3 separate regions of the Homo sapiens genome follow, and regions 2 and 3 are each linked to region 1. The links come from fine-mapping of genetic effects on gene expression. A gene starts in region 1. Each other region holds a variant in brackets. All regions are shown on one strand. Distances are between the middles of the regions. Region 1 holds the start of PJA2 (praja ring finger ubiquitin ligase 2). Region 2 overlaps PJA2 (praja ring finger ubiquitin ligase 2). Region 3 overlaps PJA2 (praja ring finger ubiquitin ligase 2).

Region 1 (8,310 bases):
TTTGACAAAGTTAATTCAATGGGGAAAGGAAAGTAGTCCCAACAAATGGTGCTAGAACTACATATACATTTGAAAAGAAAATGAGCCTTGACCCTTACTACACACCATATACAAAAACTAACCCAAAATGGATAATGTGCCTTGACATGAAAGCCAAAACTAGAAAACTTATAGAAAAATCCTAAGAGTAAATCTGCACAACTTTGCATTAAGCAAAGAGTTCTTAGAACACAGAAGCACAAATCATAAGAAAAAGTTGGTAAGATGAATTTATCAAAATTAAAAGCTCTTCTTTTAAAGTTAGGAAAATAAAAAAAAAACAAGCTTCAGATTGCAGTGTGTGTGTGTGTTTATGTATCTCTGTGTGTCAAATGAGTTGTATAAAGAATGTATTAAAAAATGCTTACAACTCAATAAGACAAACCCATTTTTTTTTTTTTTTTTTTTTGAGACGGAGTCTCGCTCTGTCGCCCAGGCTGGAGTGCAGTGGCACGATCTTGGCTCACTGCGAGCTCCACCTCCCGGGTTCACGCCATTATCCTAACTCAGCCGGAGTAGCTGGCACTACAGGTATCCGCCACCACGCCCGGCTAATTTTTTGTATTTTTAGTAGAGATGGGGCTTCACCGTGTTAGCCAGGATGGTCTGGATCTCCTGACCTCGTGATCCGCCTGCCTCGGACTCCCAAAGTGCTGGGATTACAGGCGTGAGCCACCGCGCCAGGCCCACCCATTGTTGTTTGTTTGTTTTTTAATGAGCAAAAAATGTCAACAGATACTTCACAAAGGAAGACATACACTAGAGCAAATTCTCAGCACCATTAGTCATCTGGTAAATGCAAATCAAAATCCCAGTATGATACTACTATATACCCACTAAAAGGGCTAAAATTTAAAAGACTGAAATAACCAAGTGCTGAGGATGATGTGGAGCAATTGGAACTGTCATACACTGCTGATGGATATGTAAAATGTGACAACCACTCTGGAAAACAGTTTGGCAGTTTCTTATAAACATCCATGTATCATACAACCCAACAAGTTCCATGTCTAGGTATTTACCAAGAAAAAAAAGATGTTCACAAAAATTCAAAATAAATGAATGTTCATTGAATAAAGGAATGTTCAACAAATGAAGGCTATTTATTAATAACAGCCCCAAACTGGAAACAATCCAAGTATCTGTAAATAGGTGGAATGGTCAACAAACTAGTAAATCAATACCAAGGACTTCTATTCAGCAATAAAATGAGAACCCGTTAAATACAGAAAAACATGGATAATCCTGAAAAACATGCCAAGAGAAAAAGCCAGATACAAAAGAGTATGTATTACATCATTCCACTTACATGAAATTCTAGACAAAATGATACCAATTTATAGCAAGAAAAAGATGATAAGTGCTTTCCTAGTCCTGAGGGTGAAATTGTGATTGACTGCAAAAGGGAACTTTGGGGGAGATGAAAATATTCTATATCTTAATTGTGGTATGAAAATATTCCACTCTTGACTGTGGTGGTGGTCACAGAGCACATATTTGTCAAAACAAAATACACTGTACATTTCAAATAAGTACATTTTACTGTATCTAAGTTATCCTCAATAAGGTTGATTTTCTAAGAGGGTGCTCTCTCAGGAAAATATAAACCAGGGAATACTGGTGATGCCCACATATACCCACCTCAAAAGATGTCAAAAAAATATATATAAGAAAACTCATTTATGGTTTTTAAAAATGTCAAAAACAACAACATAAGCATCTTGGAAAGCCAAGACTAGAAGGAAATATTTTAATATCAGCGGCTTTACCAGAAAGCTTCACCAAACATCATAATTAATGCTAAAACATTAGAAGCATTCCCCCTTAAAGTCAGAAACAATGCCATGTTTGTTGTTAGCTATCAGTGCTATTAGTTTTTAATCTACCAGTGCTCAACATTTTATAAGATGTATAATTGCAAAAGCAATGAGAAAAACACATAAGTTATAAAAACTGAAAAGGAAACCACAAAACTGTGAATATCTCCTGATAATCAACTCAATAAAATAATCTGATACATGATAGAAAACTCAAAAGTTTTGCTATAACCAGAGAAAACAGAGAGAGAGAAATGTTACTGAAAGTTTCCATCCACCACACGAATCAAACCATAAAATAGGAATACCAGGAAGGAATGTTATACGTATGAAGAAAAAAAAGAAAAACTATAAAAATTTCCCTAACAGTATAAAACAAGATGTGAATAAAATGGAGAGGCCACATTTCTGAGGAGAGAGACTCAATACTATAAAGATCAGTTGTCTCCAAATTAATCTAAAATTTCAATATAACCTTATTCAAAATAGCTAAGGATTTTTAGTTCAGTCTAAAGTTTACCTAGAAGAAGAAATGCATAAGAAACATTCAAGAATATTTTCAACAAGAGTAATAAAGAGGGAGAAAGGGTTACCAAAATTTAAAATATGCATAATCTTTTAACTGAGCAACTTCACTTCTAGGAACCCATGCTCCAGAAATAATCACACATAGAGGAAGTTTACTGAATTGTTAACAGTGGCTGACAATCAAGATGCAAGCAGGACTAGAAGTGGAAGCGGTAATTTTTACCTTACATTCTTCCATACTGTTTAATTTTTTAAAATCAAGGATGAATTAAAATTTGTAATTAAACATCGATCAATAAATTAGAAAGTTATTTTCATTATAAATCATCATTTGTAATAGCAAAAAGAAACTGCAATTAAATGTCTTTCAAAAAGGGAATAGAATAAATTATAGCCCATTCAAACTCACGAGATACCAGTTAGCCTTTTAAAAAGTATTAGGGAGACCTATATGTAAAAAGTAAAAATGTCCAACATATGTAATTAAGTCAATAAGCAAGCGGTATGCAAACATGTTTGGTATATGGTATAGCCTCCCTCAAAAAAAAAAACTTTACGTGTACTTGTATGTGTCTAGAAGTGCATTTGCAAGATTTTGAAAAATGAACACTAAACTGTCAACTTTACACTGGAGTGGGACTGGGGGATGAAAAGAAATATTTAAATTTTACCTAACAGTCCGTTATTTATATTGTTGAAGTGTACATCAAACTTGCATGTCTGCAATGAATTTTTAAAATTAAGTGGTCATCTCATATAAAAATGACATGAACCCCAAAAGACAATTACAACACTGAAAAATACAGTTTAAACGTTTATTACTGTTATCCTCAGGTTTATTCACATACACTTCAAATGATCCGTAGCCTTCAGCAAAGGTGACTGCCATTTTAAAGAAATGTGACCAAATATTTCATGATAAAACAGAATACATTAAGCCTGCAATGAAAATTTTAAACTTCACAGAACCAGCAGACTCAAAAGAAGCGCCTATGCGGATGTAAATTTTTTTTTTTTTAATGTCCGGAGAAGGAACTCTCAGATTACTCTCCTCCCTGCAAAACGACTATTTACCACCTCCCCTTTGCTTCAACTTGGTCTGAGCGTCTTTAACCTCACCATTTTGAATGTGCGCAAAATGATTACCAGTCATCTGAGGGAGGCCAAATTAAAGGTGCATCTGCAAGAGGAGCTCTGGCCTGACATCGCTAACTGAGAGCAGCCCTGGCGGAAAGGTGCTGATCCCGGGAGTAGAGCGACTGCTGCGGCTCGAGCGGGGTGTCTGCGTGCCGAGCCTCACTGACAATCGGGGAAAATGCAGACGCCCAGCAAAACGACGGCAACAGAAGGCTCCTCGGGGGAGGGGTGCTGCAGGCCTGTGGCGTAAGATGGTTCCGCTCTACGCGGGGTGACGGGAAACCGCAGAAGGTGGGTGTGAGGTGTTGGTTGGGGGGCAAACTCTTGTACAGTGGCGAGTGTAGGGGAAAGCCAGCGGGCTCCTTGGCCAAGTCACCAAGGACAGCAGAAGAGGCAGCAGTAAAGAGCGGCAGCGAAGACCCCGATACCAACCAATGTCATCTGTCGGGGGGCGGCGGGCGCGACCGTCCCGGATAGGAGCGCGGCCCGGGTCCGGGCTGGACAGGGCCCAGGAGGCGAAGAAGGCCTCCCACAGCCATCAACCCCACCCACCATGGCCGGCGCAGCAGGCCAGGGACAAGCCCCGCTCCTTCCGAAGCTAGAGACAGAGAAACTGAGGAGCTGAACGCAGCAATTTCCTCGCCCCGACCCCCACACTCCCGACAGCGGAACAAGCCAGACTGAAAAAAAAAAAAAAAAACCCTCACCGAAATGTGCAGCGGCTCCGGAGCGAGAACAGCGCTCGAACCTCCACCCGCCACCACCGCCTTCTTCTCCGCCTCCAACTCCTCCCCCGCCGAACGCGAAGCGGCTGGCGGCTGTGGCGGCGGCGGCGGCGGTGGCGGCGGCGGAAGCAGAGGCGGTGGCGGTGAGTCCCGCCCCTTGCGCCGCGGTGGAGGCGAAGGAGGAGAGTACGCAAGCCCCTCCCCCATAGCAGAGATGACCAGTCAGCTTACAGGGTCTCTGCTGGGGGACAATGCATACGCCCAATCAGAACCTGAGGAGTGGGCTCACGTCAATGGTTGGGACGTGGCAGAAAAAGGGAAAAATACTTGGACCTTCTCTACAGCCTGCTCCCCCATCTCCCTCAGGGGGAGTTCACCAATTGGCTGAAGAGCGGAAAGACGAAGCCGACTCAGTCCCCCGCCCCAGCCGAGCCCACCTCCTTTCCCTGCAGTACTGCGACGTTTGGGGAGGGGGCGGAGCACCGTGTAGGAGCTAAAACTGCGCGGCCTTTTGTGGTTTGGGCTGAGAGAAAAGGGCGGGGTCTCGGAAAGGGAAGGGGGTGTGGAGAACTAACAGAAAGACTGGCGCAGTTAGGCTTTTTCGGAAATTCCAACAGCAACAACCAAAATGGAGGCATTAAAATCGATCCTGATTCGACTGGAAACCTGATTAACAAGGTTAAGGTCTCCTGGCATAAAGTTCAGTTACAATGCAGATATCGGTGAGACAAAAAAAAAAAATGACACGAAGAAAGGCTTGTTTACCCACCCTGACCCTGGGCACTATATGGCGCTTTCCACCCTCCCTCTCCGCGCTGACCCTTGCCCCTCGCTTCTTATTCTGCTGGGGCGGGGTTCAGAGGAGGCCTGCCTTTCCTCTGTATAGCCTTGGGCTGACCACAGCCTCCCAGCTTGCATCTTGAGGCTGTTTGTCAAGCCGGGAAGTAACAGCTCCCATCACATGCAACCAAAATAAATACAACAGCTGCAGTCCCCGGACACCTTGCTTAATTTAAACCTGGGTAACAGTTTAGTTAATTATGTCAGTGATACAAAACTGTTTCTTCGTTCCGCACATATTCCCTTTATTCATCTTGAAACGTGTCCGCTTATCTGATTACAGTCCCTCTGTCTTCTCTTATTCCCCACCCCCGACCCGTCGCCTGATGCCCAGGATATATTCATCGCCACCCCTCCCCCGCGAATTAAGAGCCCCACTTCTTGTGCTGTCCCCTTAACAACAGCGAACTCTCTTGCCAGTGAACTGAGACTAATTTTTTTTTGCTGTTGATGGAAATAAATTACCCAAAATTTACTGTAGAAATTTAGGTTTATGAGAATTTGCCAGACATTTTGTGAAATCCAATCTGAATCCCAGCCCACTCCTGTAGTACGTTTCTTACCAAAAAACCATTCCTTGCTTGATATTACTCTGCCTTCACACGTGTTGCTATAGGAGTTCTGACTTTAACCATCCAAGTACCTCTTTGAAAAAAAACAAAATTCATATTTTAATTACATTTCCCTAGTTTCCCTTTAGGGTGTTCCAGATTGGCCCAACTGGATACATTAACCTGTTCTAGAAGGCAGGGATTCCCAAATTTCAACCTTTTTCATACTGTATCTGTGTATACTACTCACTGTCCTTTTTTCTTTAAATAAATGTATATTTTCTTTAATTTCTTTAAGAAGGAGACTTTATAAAAGTACTATAAATGGAAAACTAGCATCACCTATTATAAGTTGAAAGTAACTGTAAGAAAAATGAATGCAAAACAATGTTTTTAAATTGTGGCTAGAAACTGTTGTCCACTAAAGGCTCTAAGTCTAAAGACAACTGTCTTTGTTAAAAGGGCAAGCTACCAAGCATTAGACACACATTAAAGATACAGCACTCAAATGGTATTTTTATCATGATGTCATCAAAGGATAGAAAAAATAGAGCCGGAATAGCAATCACTTTCTCACTATATGAGTCATTGTTTTTAATCCTGCATGCGTGTCCCAACTACAGTTAACCAAGGCATCATAAGTGATCTATGTTACTATGAGAAACACTGGTATGGAGGCTGAAAAAGCCTGTACTCTAGAATCAAGCAGACATATTCACATACTGGCTCCTGCATTTGTAGCCGTGTGCCTCTGGGCAATCTACTTTGTTCTCTGACCTCGATTTCCAGTTTATTATAAATATGGGAAAGTAATAATACCAATTCATGAGTTGTATAGATTAAATAACCTAATCAATGTAAAGCATATCATACCTACAATGAAGTACTAAATACATATTAGCTTATGTATTGTATTACTATATAGAGATAATAGTATGTATTATTCGCTTATATGTATTATTGTTGATTCCAGGGTTGGGAAGCACTATCTAAGGCAATGGATTGAAGGTACTACATGATATACTGCAGTGGTTCCTAAAGTATATTATAATCCCTACACCAACAGCATCAGCATTACTTAGGAACTTTTTAAAAATGCAAATTCTGGCAAGGCGTGGTGGCCCATGCCTGTAATCCCAGCACTTTGGGAGGCTGAGGTGGGCAGATCACTTGAGGAGTTCAAGACCAGCCTGGCCAACATAGTGAAATCCTGTCTGTACCCAAAAATACAAAAATTAGCTGGGCGTGGTGGCACATGCCTGTAGTCCCATCTACTCGGGAGGCTGAAGCAGGAGAATCCCTTGAACCCAGTAGGCAGAGGCTGTAGTGAGCAGAGATCACGCCACTGCACTCCGGCCTAGGTGACAGAGTGAGACTGTCTCAAAAAAATAAAAATAAAAAATAAATAAATACATAAAATGCAAATTCTCAGGTTCAACCTCAGACTTGAATCAGAAACTCTAGGTATGTTGCCCAGCTGTATTTTTACAAGCCTTCCAGGTAATTCTGACATACGTAAAGTTTGATGACCACTAATTTAAATAGAAGAAGGCTTGGTCAAGGAGTGAGAGGATCTATGTTCTAATCATAGCCTTAAAGTGATGTCAGCCAAAATGAAGGTGTAAGGACCTCTGAAAATTCTCTTCAGCAATGAGAACACTGGCAAAATTGTCAGAACTAACTTTTTTAGAACTCTGAAAATTTACCAAAGGTTTGCAGCAATCCAGGGAGTATTTATTCAAATAGCTGAATCTCTAAGAACAGCCAGTTTTGTGTCATTTTGACTTGCCCTACTCTAACAGCCACATGTCCAGCTCCACTGTAGCTTTGAAAACCAACAGCCCACAATTGTGAAAACGAGCAGGCTGGTAGCCAGTAGGGGAAGTAGAATGGTGTTGGAGCTCCTTTAAAGAGCTTAATTTCCAGAGAACTGTCATTATTTGACCTATCTGGTGGTTCTGCAGATTTTACAAGGCTGCCTTTGTTTGATTTCACTCCAGGCTCACCCAGTGCAAAGACTTTTCCCCAGGGGTCATTTGTCAAAAACAAAAACATTGATTAACTTTGCCACTGTCTTAGGCAGTGGAAACAGGTGGGGCCAAATACAGCTTAACCAAACACTCAAAACTGATGCAGGGCAAGAGGGCCCCAAAACTGGGGCTTAGCCCAGGAAGGTTCTTGGTTTCACCCAGGGAAAAATTCGATGGCAAGCTGCTGGTGTTAGACAGCAATTTTTATTGAAGTGGCAGTGTACAGCAGCAGCAGAGATACTGCTCCTTGCAAAGCAGTGGTAACCCATGGGCAGTGTGCCCAGAGTAGCAGCATATGGGCTGTTGGAAGCTGTATTTATACCCACTTTTAATTATATGCTAATTAAGAGGTGTATTATTAGAACTTTCTAGAGGTGAGGAGTTTTTAGATCCATATAAGGTAACTTTCAGGCTGTTGCCATGGCTTGTTGCCATGGCATTTGTAAACTGTCATGGTCCCAGCAGGAGTGTCTTTATACTAATGAACAGTGTGGGCAGCTAGAGGTCACTTTTGTTGCCCTTTGCTGGTTTCAGCTGGTTTCTTTACTGCACTCTGTTTTCTACCAGATCCTGCTCTGGTAAGAGCAGTAGTGACAGGGGTATTGACCAGCGCTCAAAAAACAAATCCTGCTGATCTCCTACC
Region 2 (8,310 bases), 58 kb before region 1:
AGTACCTAGGGGCTTGGTCACATCACTGTGAAGTTTCTCTTGCCCCAGAGGGCAGATTTTTGCCATGTTCCAGAAGGCAAATTTCCAGCAAGTTCTGCCAGCACAGTACCATAAATACTCCTCCATAAGCCATGGCTGTGTCCTTCCCAATAAGGTCTGGCTCTCAGCCTTAGACAGGAGGGAAGTAGAGTGCTCCATCTCAGCCCTAAAGCTGTTTCTTAAATCTGCTAATCCTATATTCTTTAGAGTTTGCTTTACTTCCTACTAGCCAATCCCTTGGTATTCTAAACTTCTGTTGCAGTTAATATTTACAGTAAATTTTCCCTGTTCAAATTACTGTATTTCTCTCTCTTGGGACTGAACTCAGACTGGTACAGAATTCATATTAAGAGTGGTCCCGGGACACAGAACTGGCAAGAAAAGGATTTGGGGGTTGGTTTGGTTACACCTGTTGAGCTTGAGCTCAGTGTTGAGCTCCTTGCCAATGAGAATGGGATGCTATTAATCCATAGTCTGTAGTGGCATCACAATTAATCAAGGTATCACTGTGGTTGACAGTGATGAAGATCCAACTGAAGCATGTGTCTTGAAAGCCCAGATAGCTCCTATACTTGATCTTACGGCAACAGTGATCTAACTGTAAAAATCGTGATGTGAGATGGATTATTAAGAGTGCCCTTGTGCACTTACAGAAAAAAATTACAAACTCAGGTCTCTTAAACCTCACAATAGGGTATGAGAGCCAGAAAGCATCCACGACAGCCCTAAAAGATGCTCTTGCTCCTAAAAATCAAACGCAAAATGTAATTGTGTGGATTGCTAAATGAAAATTAGAGTTGACTTCTTAGTCTCATCAAATTTCTCAAAAGTTTTACCATTGATTGGTTAAGGAATAAGATTCTGAAACCTGGAATGAAGACATCTGACTGAACTCTGAGGAAACTGATAACTTTGAATCCCCAAGTCACTCTGAGCCTCCTGTTACCAGTAGAAACAGTGTGCCCTCCACAGACTAGGCTTCCTCTGCTTGAAAACCCTGTGATAATCTCACCTGGAGTGTGAATCTCTTACTGCTTTCATGCCCAACAGTAAAGTTACCAGAACTACAGCAGACAAAAAAAGAAAGAACTGAAGATATAAACAGTGTAGGTCTGGGTTATTCTACCAAGTAAAGAATCCTAACCAGCTGAGTGAGCTTCTGGCTGAGGGCAGGGAAAATATGACTGGGTCATGGAAGAAAGAAGTTATAGCTATCATTCAGTCTCATGAGCAAATACAGAACAAGGATTAGTAATTCTGCATATTTTATGTGCTTGTTTTATGTATCTGCTTATTTATATATGTTAACAGTTTACTTTTCCTCTTTCCCATTTCTATTTCAATATGCCAGTTGTTGGAAGTTAAATTTGCAATTTAGTCTTTATATAAGAGAATATTCAGTGTTACTATGAATGTGTGGAGTAATGCATAACTAGCGATGGATACAATGCCTCTTGGAACTAGCCATCTGCTCATTCTGGGAAATGGGTGAAACTTCATTTGTAGTAATAGCTGTATTTTGTTGGGTGGAAATACAATTCTATTGATGGATGGAAATTTAAATGTGCATTGAAAGGTATATATGGAAGCCAAGTTATCAAAGTGCTGGAATGTTCCATTTATGGAATTATTGCTCCACAAATCCATATTCACTATTGTGTCGGCTCTGTGAAAATCTGGGCTGTTTAAATACTTTCCCTCCTAACAGCTGGCATGATGCTAAGCTTTGTTCACAGAGGATGTTGAAGAACACTGCTGGAGGAAAGGGCCTTCCTTCTGTCCCAGTGTGCTTGCTTGACAGAGCACACTGGGACTAGAGTGATGTTCGTGGCTTTCTCTAGCACTAGACTCAGTGCACACAGCTTCTCTAGCAGCCAGTTCCTGTAATGCACTTAGTAGGTGGCAGCCTCCCCCAGCATCCATGTTGGACAGTTCTGCAGTACAGCACTTCCAGTTAGAAACCTTCCTATGAATAGCTTTCCTCAGCACCCTAAGAGAGCTGACTTCCAGCAAGTTTCACCAGCACATACCCAAGTGACTTCTCTCTCATACAGCAAGCCACAGCTGTGCCATTTCCATCAAGGTGACCTCAGCCCTGAGATGGACTAGGGACTCTTCCTTGGGTTGTCCTAGCTTTGCCAGACAGGTGGTGGCTGCTCCTTATATGCGCTTTTCCCATATTCTGTGTAATTATCTTTATTTCCTCCTAGCCAATCCCTTGTTACTCTACTTCTTTGTTCTAGTTTAGAATTCCTTATATTGAACTTTCCCATTGCAAGATAGGAAATGGAAGGTAAGATCCTGTTATCAGTCCCTTTCCTTCTCACATAGCTATAATTATGAATCTCCTCCAATTCCCCATATGTACTACTCAAGATAGAACCTGCTTGCAAGAACTCATTTGTGCTACACATAAACAGAAATAAGGGATGTTATTTATAGTAACTTTCATTTGGGGAGGTTATTCCAGGCTAATTATGCTTTGATATATGTTTGTCTCAATGGGTTCATTATCTCTTTCTAATGATTATCTGCATATTTGCAGTGCTAGTAACACCTGAAATTTCATATATGTAAAAATAATTTATTGCCTTGGTACTGTCATATATTTAAGATGATCCAGGATCACTTATAAGCAACACAAGCAAAAGATAGCCTTTTAAGCCACTAGTATGAAAATCTATAAAAATTAAAAAAAAAAAAACTATCTATACCTTTAGGCAGTACAATGTATTTACAATAGTTAGTCGAAGAGGCAGAAAGACAACTAGCCTAAATCACCCTATCTAGAATACATGTAGGTTTAAAGTAGCATAATCCTTTATCAGCATAAAATTTTGTTCTAAAGAATAAAATACAATTCAGTTTTTAAAGAACGAAGATAGTAATACCGATTCTGAATGATCACCACTGAATCCAGATTTGTTCACTGATTACACCAGTTAGTTGACTATTGATTTGAATAAACCTATATGAATATACTATTTACTGAGAGATTCCCAATACAACCAGGTATTTTGCTAAAGGCTTTAACACAATCTCACAATAACCCATCAGGTAGATTTTATTATTCCCATTTTGTAAATGAAGACGCTAAAGCTCAGAGAAGTTAAGTGAATTGTCCAAGGTCACACAGCCAAACTCTTTAACACAAAAGCCCACCTTCTAAACCTCCACATTACAGCCTTCCTAGTGCCTATACCTGGGTGTATACAGGTGCTATTGTGAGTATGTAAAGACTTTACAAGGGGCCCGTGGGTATGGACAGTCTTAAGATAATCAGTTTCAATAAGCTTTCATAGGTAAAATCTTTCTTCGAACTGATCCACATAAGAATGCACCTGCAGTATATCATGCTGGTTCTCTGTTCTAACATTCTGTTTATACTTGCCTTTCTTCCACTTTATAAATAAAAGCATACTTCTTACCCATTCACAGGGACAATCTGAAGTACTGAGGTAGAACTGAACTCTAATGACTAAGTAACAAATCTTTTGGGTGGCTTCCAATCCTTTGCTTAAAAAAAAAAAAAAAACGGAAGGAATCTAAAGAATATCTAGACAAGTTGATGTGATTCTGGGCAAATATCTCAAAAGAATTCAGTGACAATGCCATAATAAACTCCTTCCATTCCTATTAATTTATTTAGGTGAACAACGTTTTTCAACCTTACATTCATAAGATGAAAATCAGAAGTAAATTTATGCTGAAATATGTCTCATTCCGGTAATAAATAAAATTCACTCATAACTGGGAAAGGAAAATGCCTCCATCTCATTAGATTCACTTCCTACAAAACACTTACCAAAATTCATAATTTATTTTTGATTATTTGGATACTATTAATTGTAACTCAATTTAACCACTTTTTATATTAAAAATTTTAAACATTTTTCTAGCGAAGAAGTATGATAAAATAACTAATACTACCTAGATTTATGCTGAAAAATTTTAGATGTCAACATAAATGTGCAAGGGGATTTTTTCAAAATCCATTTTGAAAAGTAGAAAAGTTTCAAAAGGTTAAAGA[T/C]GTTTAAGGTTTTACCCTCTCCTCACTCAAATTAGAGACACAGATATAAGGAGACAAATACATACTGCCAGTATTTTCACCAAAAGCCACTACCTGAAAACAATGACCAATCTAGTATTGGGAAAATAACAGAAATGAAAGCAACTACTTCCAAAAAGTTATAGGGCTGCTTGAGAAACAAACAAACAAAAACAAGCAGTTTGTTTTGTTTTTGTTTCATTTAAAGAGTGTTAGTGTTAAATATAAAAGAAATAATCATAAATTATTTTTGTTTCATTTTAAAAAATGATTAAATAAATGCATACTGAACACAGAAAAACAGATTTCTGAAGAGTGACAGGAAGACAACTGTATTGATTTTCTAGGAGTGAAACATCTCAATCAAATTCAAATAAATTAAATCAGAGCACTAAAATGTGAAGAAGCTGATAAGCTTTAGAGGAGAGAGATGCTTAAAGCCATTAAACACAGGCAGAAGTATAGACTGGTAGGAATAATGCCACTGAGTTCACTATTGGTAGAAGCCAACAATGTTTGAGACTGCAAGCTCTTGCTTGCCTTTTGTCTTAGTTCACTGCTAGTGCCTTTACTTAGCATGACCTCTCAAGACCAGTCTCTCTGGCTCTTCTTTCAAGATGCCAAATGTCACATTCCCCACTAGTAATAAATACTAAAACATTTTATTCTCAACACTTCTTTTTAAAGTTATCTCCATATTGTAGGAAATCATAAACCACTAGCATAAAATGAAAGACTAAATGTTGTGAAATCAGACCCTAGAACAGATCACTCAAAGAGTTATTTAGCACAACGAAATGAGTGATCCTTAATCTTTATGTATTTCTGATGCAAGTTACCATGCTATACCATTATTTCTTATGTGTCAGAATTTGCCAAGGCAGGTTAAATAATTTGGCAAAAATCCTAATTGTATCCTATCTCATGATGTTCTTTCTGACTTTTTTCCTAGTATAGAGTATTTCTGCTATGGTTACTTTGAGAAAAACACTCACCATAAAGCGTAATTGAAAGCAATCTCCATGGACAGTTATATATGTAAAAAAAGTGATGACAAAGCAGAGCTAGCATAAATGTATGTGAACATGTATATGCATGCATGTGTGTGCACAGATGGACAGATATCTAATATCTATAGATATCTATATTAGATATGTATATATTAGATATCTATAATATCTATAGACATCTATATATTAGATATCTACAATATCATAGACATCTATATATTAGATATCTATATCTATAGACATCTATATATTAGATACCTATAATATCATAGACATCTATGTATTAGATACCTATTATATCTATAGACATCTATATATTAGATACCTATATCTATAGATATCTATATATTAGATACCTATATCTATAGATATCTATATATTAGATACCTATATCATAGACATCTATATATTAGATACCTATTATATCTATAGACATCTATATATTAGATACCTATATCTATAGACATCTATATATTAGATACCTATATCTAGATATCTATATATTAGATATCTATAATATCTATAGATATCTATATATTAGATACCTATAATATCTATAGATATCTATATATTAGATACCTATAATATCTATAGATATCTATATATTAGATACCTATAATATCATAGACATCTATATATTAGATATCTATAATATCTATAGATATCTATATATTAGATACCTATAATATCATAGACATCTATATATTAGATACCTATTATATCTATAGACATCTATATATTAGATACCTATATCTATAGACATCTATATATTAGATACCTATATATAGATATCTATATATTAGATACCTATATCTATAGATATCTAATATATTAGATATCTATAATATCTATAGATATCTATATATTAGATATCTATAATATCATAGATATCTATATATTAGATATCTATAATATCATAGACATCTATATATTAGATATCTATAATATCATAGACATCTATATATTAGATACCTATATCATAGATATCTATATATTAGATACCTATTATATCTACAGACATCTATATATTAGATACCTATTATATCTACAGACATCTATATATTAGATACCTATATCTAGATATCTAGATTAGATATCTATGATATCTAGAGATATCTATAGATTAGATGTCTATGATATCTAGAGATATCTATAGATTAGATGTCTATGATATCTAGAGATATCTATAGATTAGATGTCTATGATATCTAGAGATATCTATAGATTAGATGTCTATGATATCTAGAGATATCTATAGATTAGATGTCTATGATATCTAGAGATATCTATAGATTAGATGTCTATGATATCTAGAGATATCTATAGATTAGATAGATATCTAGAGATATCTATAGATTAGATATCTATGATATCTAGAGATATCTATAGATTAGATATCTATGATATCTAGAGATATCTATAGATTAGATATCTATATCTAGAGATATCTATAGATTAGATATCTATGGTATCTAGAGCTGTCTATAGATTAGATATCTATGATATCTAGAGATGTCTATAGATTAGATATCTATGATATCTAGAGATATCTATAGATTAGATATCTATGATGTCTAGAGATTTCTATAGATTAGATATCTATGATGTCTAGAGATATCTATAGATTAGATATCTATGATATCTAGAGATATCTATAGATTAGATATCTATGATATCTAGAGATATCTATAGATTGGATATCTATATCTAGAGATATCTATAGATTAGATATCTCTGATATCTAGAGATATCTATAGATTAGATATCTATGATATCTAGAGATGTCTATAGATTAGATATCTATGATATCTAGAGATATCTATAGATTAGATATCTATAATATCATAGATATCTATATCGATATTAGATATCTATAATATCTATAGATATCTATATCGATATTAGATATCTATAATATCTATAGATATCTATATCGATATTACATATCGATATCTAATATCTATCGATATTAGATATATTAGATATATGTTATATATCTAATATATAATATACAATATATTAGAGATCATTTAAAGACAAATTTATCTAATAGATATATCTAATATATATTATATATTAGAGAGAGGTAATATATTAGATATATAAATATATTATTAAATATATCAATATTAGATAGGTACCTGCTATCTAACTTGTCAATCTAAACTAGACTTTCTGGCTGGGCATGGTGACTCATGTCTATAATCCCAGTGCCATGGGAGGCCAGAGTGGGAGGACTGCTTCAGGGCAGGAGTTTGAGACCAGCCTGGGTAACATAATTGGACCCTATCTCTACCAAAAAACCCCACAAAAAACCAAAACCAGGTCTGATGGCCCGTATGTGTAGTCCCCACTACCTGGGACAGGCTAAGGTGGGCTGATTGCTTGAGCCCAGGAGTTCAGGGCTGTAGTAAGCTATGACTGCACCACTGCACTCCAGCTTGGGTGACAGAGTGAGATCTCGTCTCAAAAATAAATAAATATACAAACTGGACTTTCTAATCTCAGAAAATTTAAAGACAAAATATATTATAATGCTCCTAAAAGTTCTTGCCAATTTTTTGTTCTCTCACCTGTGGCTCATTCACCAGTCATTTCTGTACCTATATTTTGGAAATCACTTTGGAAATAGTGATTTGAAAGGACTTCTTTTAATGAAATCCACTGGTACAGTAGTAGTTCCCAAACATGAAAATACTTGGGCTTTGAACTTAGGCAAATACATTTAAGAACAGGTTTTTCTGTTTTAGTTAAATAATGAAAAGAAGGCAAGAGAAGCTGAGGCAGCAAATATGCCCCACTTATTAAAGTGTGTATATGTTTGCTGGGATAAGGAGGAGCAAATTTCCTAACTGCATTAGGCAGCCAGATAGTATTTAGAAGCCATGAGAAAAAAAGAGATTTGTAATATATCCTTAGCTTCAACTGCATTTCACAAATACACCTGTGCGTGTGTATATAAGATATTCACTCTCATACTTGTATAATTCAATAGAGAAAAAAGTATATTTTCTAAATGTAAGCAAAACATTTTCCATTCTGCAGTAAAAACTGAGAAATACTGAAATTTAAGGCAAACTAGCAGGACATCAAGTATAATTTGTATGCACATACTGGTGACAATTATTATTCAATAACTGTTACTAAACTGATGGGAAAAAGATTCACCTTTTCTTAAGAGTAGTCTAAAAATCCCTTTAAACCTTTATCATT
Region 3 (8,310 bases), 77 kb before region 1:
CCTCTTGCAACCCTTTTGCTTCACCTCCCCATTTCCTGTTAAGAATTCCCTATTTCCCAACATAAATTAGTGAGAGAAGCTGACAGACCTGCCTTATCTCCAGCACCGGGTCGCTGGTCAACCTCTGAATGCAGGAGCCTTGAGTCAGGTGCCCAACAGTCCAATCACCTGTGGCTGGGAGGAGTGGGGTTTTGAGGCCTATGTTGTCCCATCCCTTTAGCAGGGGCTATGGTGTTGAGAGACAATTCTTCCTCGATTTCTCGTATTTCTGCACATCTTCTGAGCAAGAAGCATGAACAGCTTTGTTCTGTCCTGCCTTTTCAAAGATGTTTGTATAGCAAATAGTCTTAGGAGACAGATATATTGTCCCCTACTCTCCTCCCAGGTCAGAGGACAGATTTGTTTCCTGGGCAAAATGAGGATAATGTCTTGTCCTGGGGCAGATTTCTAGCAGTTCCCTAAGATTGGGGTTTCCTAAGCTCAAATTTCCTCAGCTGTGACACTAAACTCACACTGTGTGTGTGCAGCACTCCTGAGGGACATTGGGGGGAAGGCAAACTGATGTAATTATGAAACTCATGCTGTCCACTGTGCTATGAGAAATGAAGTCCTTTGTCTCTGATCCAGGGGTCTTGTATATACTCCTGGGACCTAGGAAATTTGTTAGCTTGCAAGCAGGGAAAAACCCTGAATCCGTTGCAGTCCTTGACAATGAGAAGGGATATTCTCCTTCAGGTAGAATGGTCCTTGCAGGCACTGTGGTAAATTCATCCAATGCAGCATTCTGTTCTGCTTCCCCTTCTACTGAGTTTCACCTACATATAAATTAAGCTTTAGGCAGTTCTTCAGGGCCTTAGTTTTGGGAGAAAATGCATTATACAGTAATGGGGGTTGGGGAAAGAAGAACCCAAAGGATTGTGCAACATTTCTGTCCTCCCTGAGTGAACCTCGGTTATGCTCAGATTTGGCACCTCTGCTATATCATAGTGCTGCTGCTAAGTTGAGAGGGGGGACTGTCTTAACATGGCTGTGCATCTGCATAGCATTTATTTCCCTTAATGTCCAGTGCACTTTAACTTGGCCCATTCAGCTTCTGTGAGTCATAATACAGCAAGTCTGCCAATTTTACAATGATGCTTACTCCTTATTAAGCCCTTAGTAAGACAGTTTGCAGGGTTCATTGTGTTAGTGCTGGTACGCCAGCATAGTTACAAAAAAAATTATACAATATTTTGTATCAGAGCCTACATGACCAGCAGAAAAGCCGTGCTTCAGAATTGCCTGCTTTATGTTCTATTTTCTGGATAAAACCACACTGGATGCATATGTGTGAATGCTGTAGCACAGGGAGAAAACAAGCAAAAATAAAGCACAGGATATAAGGTCAAACACTGGAGTTTTGGTTATTCTATTCAACTCACCCCCATCTCCAGAAAATAAACTCTTGGCTGGCGCTGGTGGCTCATGCCTGTAATCCCAGCACTTTGGGAGGCTTGAGGCAGGTGGATCACCTGAGGTCAGGGGTTTGAGACCAGCCTGACCAACATGGTGAAACCCCATCTCTACTAAAAATACAAAAATTAGGGGGGGCATGGTGGCACATGTCTGTAATCCCATCTACTCAGGAGGCTGAGGCAGGAGAATCGCTTGATCCGGGGAGGCAGAGGTTGCAGTGAGTCGAGATCGCACCATGGCACTCCAGCCTGGGTGAGACTGCATCTCAAAAAAAAAAAAAAGAAAAATTCTTTTCAAATTTCCCTGGTTGTAAGTCATCATGGCCTGCTGTGGTCCATAGGGCATACGACCTCTTAGGAGATGGGTTCAACCCTTCAACCTATAACTATCTCAATATAGCTATAGATCCTTTGGGCTTGAGAGTAGGTGCTGGTAGCTAAAGTCACCTTAGGGGGCTCATTCTTTCCTTGCTTTTGTTTCTAGCTTTGGTAATCACAGAAGAGACACTAAGGCTCTGTGTGTCAGGCATTCCCCAAGCTAAGATGAAATCCTCTCTACTGAGTGAATCCAGCTGTGCTGGGGGTGGGCACGCTAACAGTCTCTTCATTACAATGGACACTTCAGGAGGCCAGGGATCTTGTCTATTTTGTTCACAGGTTTGTGAGAGTAGGCACTTTGTAAACATTAAATGGACAGCAGCTCAGGTTATACAAATATTTAATTTGTTGGGTTTAATGAAGGTGTTTTTCAGTGGATTGAGAAAGTATTCCCATTTTATATGTCCTAATATACTATTTTCATAAGCTCCCTAATTTGAAAATTTTTAAACATTTTCTTTCAGGTAGTATTTACTCATTTAGATGTGGGTTGTAACCAAGGTGCTCACTTGTGAATAGCTTCGTCATCCAATTGAGGCTGAGCTTGCTTCCCAGACAAGGCTGATCTTGTAAGCTCCTCATCCCTATCTTCATCCGCTTTAAAGGTCAATTTAAACGGAAATAAAAAGTCTAACACTCTAGAATGGCACCAAACCTAGAATACTGCAATACCAGGGTTGGGGGATCCTTGGTCCAGGTAAGGAGGAAGAATTATTTGTTGGGGCCAAAAGCTAGTCGGTATGATGGCATGTAGAGAAGCCCCTTTTAACAGCTGTCTGTAACAGTTGGGTTCTCTTCACAAGTCATTGGGACTAGACTAACAGAACTAGGGCACAATGTAAACGGCTGGATTTTTTAAAGAATTCTTTAAAAAAGAATTTAAAATGGCATTTATTAAGGATTGAAATCAAAAGGAAAGCCCCTGTCAAGTGTCTCTTCCTACGAATAAAACAACTTGGGAGTAGGTTCTGTACTCTTTGGAGTATTTGCAGTTGTGGAGGGCAGATGTCCATGGCTTCTAGAGGAACTGAAATCCAGACCTTTGGAAAGGGTAGCACAAATTGCTTGTAGAAAGATGTCTGGATAGTTAGCTCTTGATGGCTAAGAGACAACAGGATGCTATACACCTTTCAGGCCTGGGACAGTCTCTGCAGAACAGTTTAAGAATCCCAGATTACCAGGCAAAGGTAGGAAGTTCTCATTAGATCTTACTGGTGACTAAGAAACTTCACTAATCAGGGCCACATTAGAATCTTGGTCATCAGTACACAAATATCTTAACATGTTAGCAAAATAATATAGCAAGGAAAAAATATTTCTCAAAATTCTGAACAGATCCTAATTTTTTCTGATAAAACAAAACAAAAAAAACAAAACAGACTGCATCTCAAGCAATGTACTTAAATAATAACACTGATAACACTGATCAGGTAAGCTGTTCCTACTCAGGAAGGCAGCATGAAGTGGACAGAACCGACAGCATCTCCTTTAAGAACCAGGGCTCTTTGACCATGTCTGGGGCTCATTTTTTTTTTTTAATTTGTAAAGTTGAGACAATAAATCAACCCTGCAGACTTATTATGAAGATGAGATAAGATAGAAAGCCTACACTATGCCTAATATTTAGTGTTTCATAAATAGAAACTATTATTATAATGTAAAAATGCATTTAAAAATGAATCTTCGTAAGAAGAAACATTGTTATAATCTAAGGAAATTACTGACAGTAAGAAGTATCTTTCTAAAAAAATAAAGACCTCCTCCCTGTCAATGTTCACTATAAAAACTGTATATTGATTATATACTAATAATATAAGATGCAATAAATTACCAACTATATTAGTGTTAGGTTTCATAATTAATATTATGAAAATTACACTTTATTTTGACTTAATAAGGTTCCCGTCAAATTCTCAACTCTTGAAAGGTAATTAATATGTTTTTAAGAGTGTTTTATCTGAAATGTTCATCATTCTCCAAAAAGTGGTGCTATAAACAATGATGGAAACCAAGTATAACATATTTCCCTATGACTTTGCACATCAATGAAAAACATTTTTTTCAAACCCTTATTCATGCACAAATAGTGGTAGTACTGAACCTATAATTTAGATTCATTACTTTATAGAGAAAACAGAAGCAGGGTGATTACGTGACTTTGTCAAGGTCATGTTATTTCAAACACCACAATTTTGAGATGGGAAAAGGCGGACTCCAAAAATTATTAAAATGAGCTTGACATTGATCACTTAACAAATTCTAAGGCAGATTATTAAACAGATGTCACGTAAGGAGTTAGAAAAAGAGGCAGTATGGTTTCATTAAGAATGAGGCGTTACCAGCTGACTTCATTTCCTTTCTTTAATATACTAGTACATTAGGCTACTTCCAAAGACAGTGCATAGTGCATCTGTCTGCCAAACACACTAAAATTTTTAGTGTCCTTTTTAGGAAAGATGAAGAAACGGGCATATGAAGTGACTGGTAGTTACCGCAACAACTGTAACCAAATTACTAATTAACGGATCACTCACCTTAAGTGCAGTGTATAGTGGCATTCTAAAGAGGGTCTGTACTGCATCCCATTCAATTCAACATGTATCAACAACTTAGACAAAGCCACTACATACCAAAGGTATGCTTTATCAAAATTGGAATGGATGCAAGGCTAAGACGAAAAACCTGAATTCACAAGAACCTTCACAAATCAAATTCAGTAAGGATGAATGCTGTCCTTCAATTAGGTTAATAAGAGATTGTTTAAGTAAAGATTAGGCGGGGACTTGGCTTACCAGCAATACCTGTGAAGCTCAGCAAGAGACAGCAAACAGTATGACAGCCTGGCTAATAATGATGGTGGTAATAATAACATATACCAACCATAACAGCCACAGGAGAATCACTCTGAAGGTGGCAACAGTGCTCCTGAACCCTGCCCTAGTTCGACCACAGAACTGTGTTTAATTCTGAGCAACATACTTTAAGAGAAGGAGTGAAAGAGCCAACTCTAGGCTGGTCTGGAATAGATACCATGTAAGATTTCAGAAAGCGTGAAGCCTGAAGAAGGATATGAAGAGGTGACCACACAGGAGAAACA[G/A]GACTTTCTAATTTCACGTGTGCTGTTTATAGAGAAATTTGGTGACAATCTTCCAACAATGAAATTCATCCCTTGCAGGGGTGCTGAATGGCTCCATCCAGCAGTGGCTGAATGAAAATGATGATGAAATTATAAAAACATCAACAGTAGAGGTATACCACTGATGTTTCCAGCTCTGAGACTATTTTTCTAGTACATATTTAATCTATTAGAGGAGAATCAGAATTCTAAACTTTCTAAGCATCTAAACAAAATGATTAGTTTTTATCCAACTTTGTAAATTTTTTTGAGATAGGGTCTCACTATGTTGCCCAGGTTGCTCTTCAACTCCTGGTCTCAACCAATCCTCCTGCCTCAAGCCTCCTGAATAGCTGGGATTATAGGTGCACACCACCATGCCTGGCTAGTCTTTGTCTAATTGAATTGCGTAATTTATCAGCACCCAATTGACCCTTCTGAAATGACTGAGTTCTCTGAACTGTTTGAGAACCACAAGGAATCTTGCTAAACAGTTAGATTTAATAATATTTCCATGCCTGATTTGGAGAAAACCACTGATGTGAGGTGGGCTCCCTTCCTTATTAAGGGTTTCTGCAGTCCGGAGTCAGTGTGGAAATCAGGTTCTGCTGAAACCTACGGGATAGCTAAGGATGTCAGGGAGGAGAGGGCAAGGACTCAGAGACCCTCCAGCAGTAGGAAGTCCATCAACTACTTCTGTCTGGCTCTTTCTAGGGCTTTCTTAGATTATAGTTCAAGGACTTCTAACATCACATGCTCAGTAGTGTTATCTGTCATTAACTCTAAATCCTTCAGGGGTTACATTATAGAAGTGATACAATTACACAATTAAATATTAGAAATGACCACCGAGTATATTCTGTTTATTGTTTATGATTTACACAGAAAATGATGGGCTGGGGTTATAGAACAATAAACCAACCATTACATTTAGACCTGGGCTTTTGAAAAACTTGCATTCCATTTTAACAATTCGTATGTATCTAACAAATACATAAATCCAGATCACAAATAATCTTAAGAGTTAAACAATTAAGAAACACAAAGAATACCACATAGATCTACCTTTAAATATCAGCATTCATATTATAAGAAATAAGAAAATGTTAAAAAAATAAAATTAGGTTAAGTCACAACATAAAATAGAGAAATAAGATAAATGCTATTTTATTAATATTCATACTTATTTCTAATTTACCTTCATATAGTCTTAACTTTTTCAAAAGGATCCAAGATATGATCAAATAATATTTTAGTATCTGAACTTGCCAGCCTTAGCTTATACCAGAGCTTGTTACCATGAAAATCCTAAAACCTCAATTTTCTTTTTCTTTTTTAAAATTTAAGCCAACTCTTATTCAACTTTTCTTCTTCACAGCAGCTGTTTATAGATAGTAGGGAGCCAAGAATGAAGGACAGTAACAGATGGAAAGCAAAAAGTACAACAGCTATCTTAAGTTCAGCTCTCAACATTGCTGGTTGAGTTTGGAACCAAAACCTCTTAACAACTGGCAGATAATAGCTAAATCTTAACAGACAAAGAAGAAATATTTTCTTTGGGACAGCTGCTATCTAGAAGAAAACCAAGGTCCCTTAATATAGTCTAAATATAATGTGTGGCTTATTATAGAGAAATCTTTAGCAACGTAAGTTTAACCAGTAAGTGTCACAACTGATCAACAGTACTTAAAAGGAAACAAACAAAAATCACACTAGCCACAAATTTCCACCATATACACATGAAATTAATTTTAATCTGTTTTGACTCCTTGACACTAACTGATCATTAATGAAATATGATATGGAAAGATCACAGAGTAGAAAACAAGCAAAGATTAGTTTATACAACAGTGACTATATACATCAGAGGGAAAACATGCTAGCTAATGCAACATTAAGGCCTGAATGTAAGCATTTCCCAAGTCACAGAAGCCCCAAAGAACTCCTAAATTACAAATTCATCACATTACATGCATGCAATGTTCACTTTTGTTTTACCCATAAAAGGATACACAGTATTTTGCTGTAAATACCAGACACATTTACAATATATGCAAAAATTAGAATGCAAGTGTTATGTTCCTTATATTTAAGCCTCATATGTGCCAACAGTGAAAATTCATTTATTTTTAAGAATGAAAAAAGGAGACGGGATATAAATACTCAGAGAAATACACGAATAAGATGTAACTCTGCATTTGGGAAGCCATATAAATATTCCTTTTATGTGCCCAAACTAAATTATCAATGTACCAGTTAGACGGACATACACTCACTATGTGCTTTACTATTTTACTTGCTCAAATGTTCTACAGTCATCATTCTCTAGTGTTAACATCAAATCACATTTGTAAGTGAACTATTATGTCCATGTTTGCACATACTCGTCCACTGTGTGTGATCACCTGAAGGAGACATTGTGCATCTTAGTTTGGGGTTATATAATTACAAAGATGACCCTGTGCAAGTTTTCAGACCTTCCAAAATACTGTAGAAGCAAAATTACCTTAAACTAACTATAAGCAATATTAAACAAATGTGCCATGAGTGTTCTGGGCCTTCAAGTATAATTTTAACCAAGGAGAAACAGGTTGGGTAAGAGGTTAGAAAGAGTTTCATAAGGCCATCTAATTCAGCTCATTGTACCAAGCCCTGAGCACACTAGATTCTTTGTATGCTTTACTAACCTTACGTTAAGCACATCCACTGGTTTCATTAAGGATTTTACTACCTAACTTTATTTCAGGGGGAGTTACGTCTACGATTTAAAACTTTTGTAATGTTCTGGCCAAAATTTTAGCCTTCATTTGGCATTCTGAAAAGTTCTAATTTTAAACAAAAATGGACTTTCTGAAAAATTTCTCAGCATATGAACCAAGAGGTTATGATATAGCAAAATCAAAGGGACTAGTGAAAAAGCATACTTTAGAATTTGTTTCATTTCCAATGAAACCAAATTTTACTACGGTTGTGAACACAGTCTTTACATTTGATGCAAACAGGACAGCTTAATTATAATCACTTAGTGGCAGTATTACAGACAAAGCCAATAACGTATGCCACACAGATGATTATTTATTCTGGAGAGAGTCAACTGATAAGCTTGGCTTTACAATTAATACAAACATATTCAACTAAAGAAAATGGATGCACTGTCTCAACATTCAGCTTAAAAATGTTTAATACTTTCTGCAAACCTAAATTTAGTTTAGAAAGGTTAATATTCTTTCTAAACTATGGCATATACTATATATAGCATTTTTAAATATATTTATATATAATTATTTGCACATGAAATTTAGAAGGAATTTGCAGATTTACTTTGATACACTGATCTCATTTCAACTGTCAAGGTTTAGGGTG

The links. PIP is the estimated chance that this variant, and not a neighbour inherited with it, causes the effect.
Region 2: its variant is the best candidate, but not a certain one, in a credible set for the expression of PJA2 in whole blood (INTERVAL, PIP 0.57).
Region 3: its variant is the best candidate, but not a certain one, in a credible set for the expression of PJA2 in whole blood (INTERVAL, PIP 0.89).

Annotation. Positions count from the first base shown.
Region 1 is chr5:109,405,614-109,413,923 of GRCh38, forward strand. It overlaps PJA2 (praja ring finger ubiquitin ligase 2), which reads right to left and starts at 4,361. Exons shown (of 10, transcript NM_014819.5): 1 at 4,229-4,361. RefSeq lists enhancers at 3,446-3,545, 3,586-3,705, 4,816-4,995 and a silencer at 4,226-4,305.
Region 2 is chr5:109,347,559-109,355,868 of GRCh38, forward strand. All of the region lies in intron 7 of PJA2 (praja ring finger ubiquitin ligase 2), which reads right to left. Among named protein-coding and RNA genes, the nearest start is that of PJA2, 58 kb to the right of the region's middle. The variant T/C (reference allele first, on the strand shown) is at 4,070.
Region 3 is chr5:109,328,929-109,337,238 of GRCh38, forward strand. PJA2 (praja ring finger ubiquitin ligase 2) reads right to left here. Exons shown (of 10, transcript NM_014819.5): 10 at 5,794-8,310. The coding sequence ends at 8,303. Among named protein-coding and RNA genes, the nearest start is that of PJA2, 77 kb to the right of the region's middle. The variant G/A (reference allele first, on the strand shown) is at 4,930.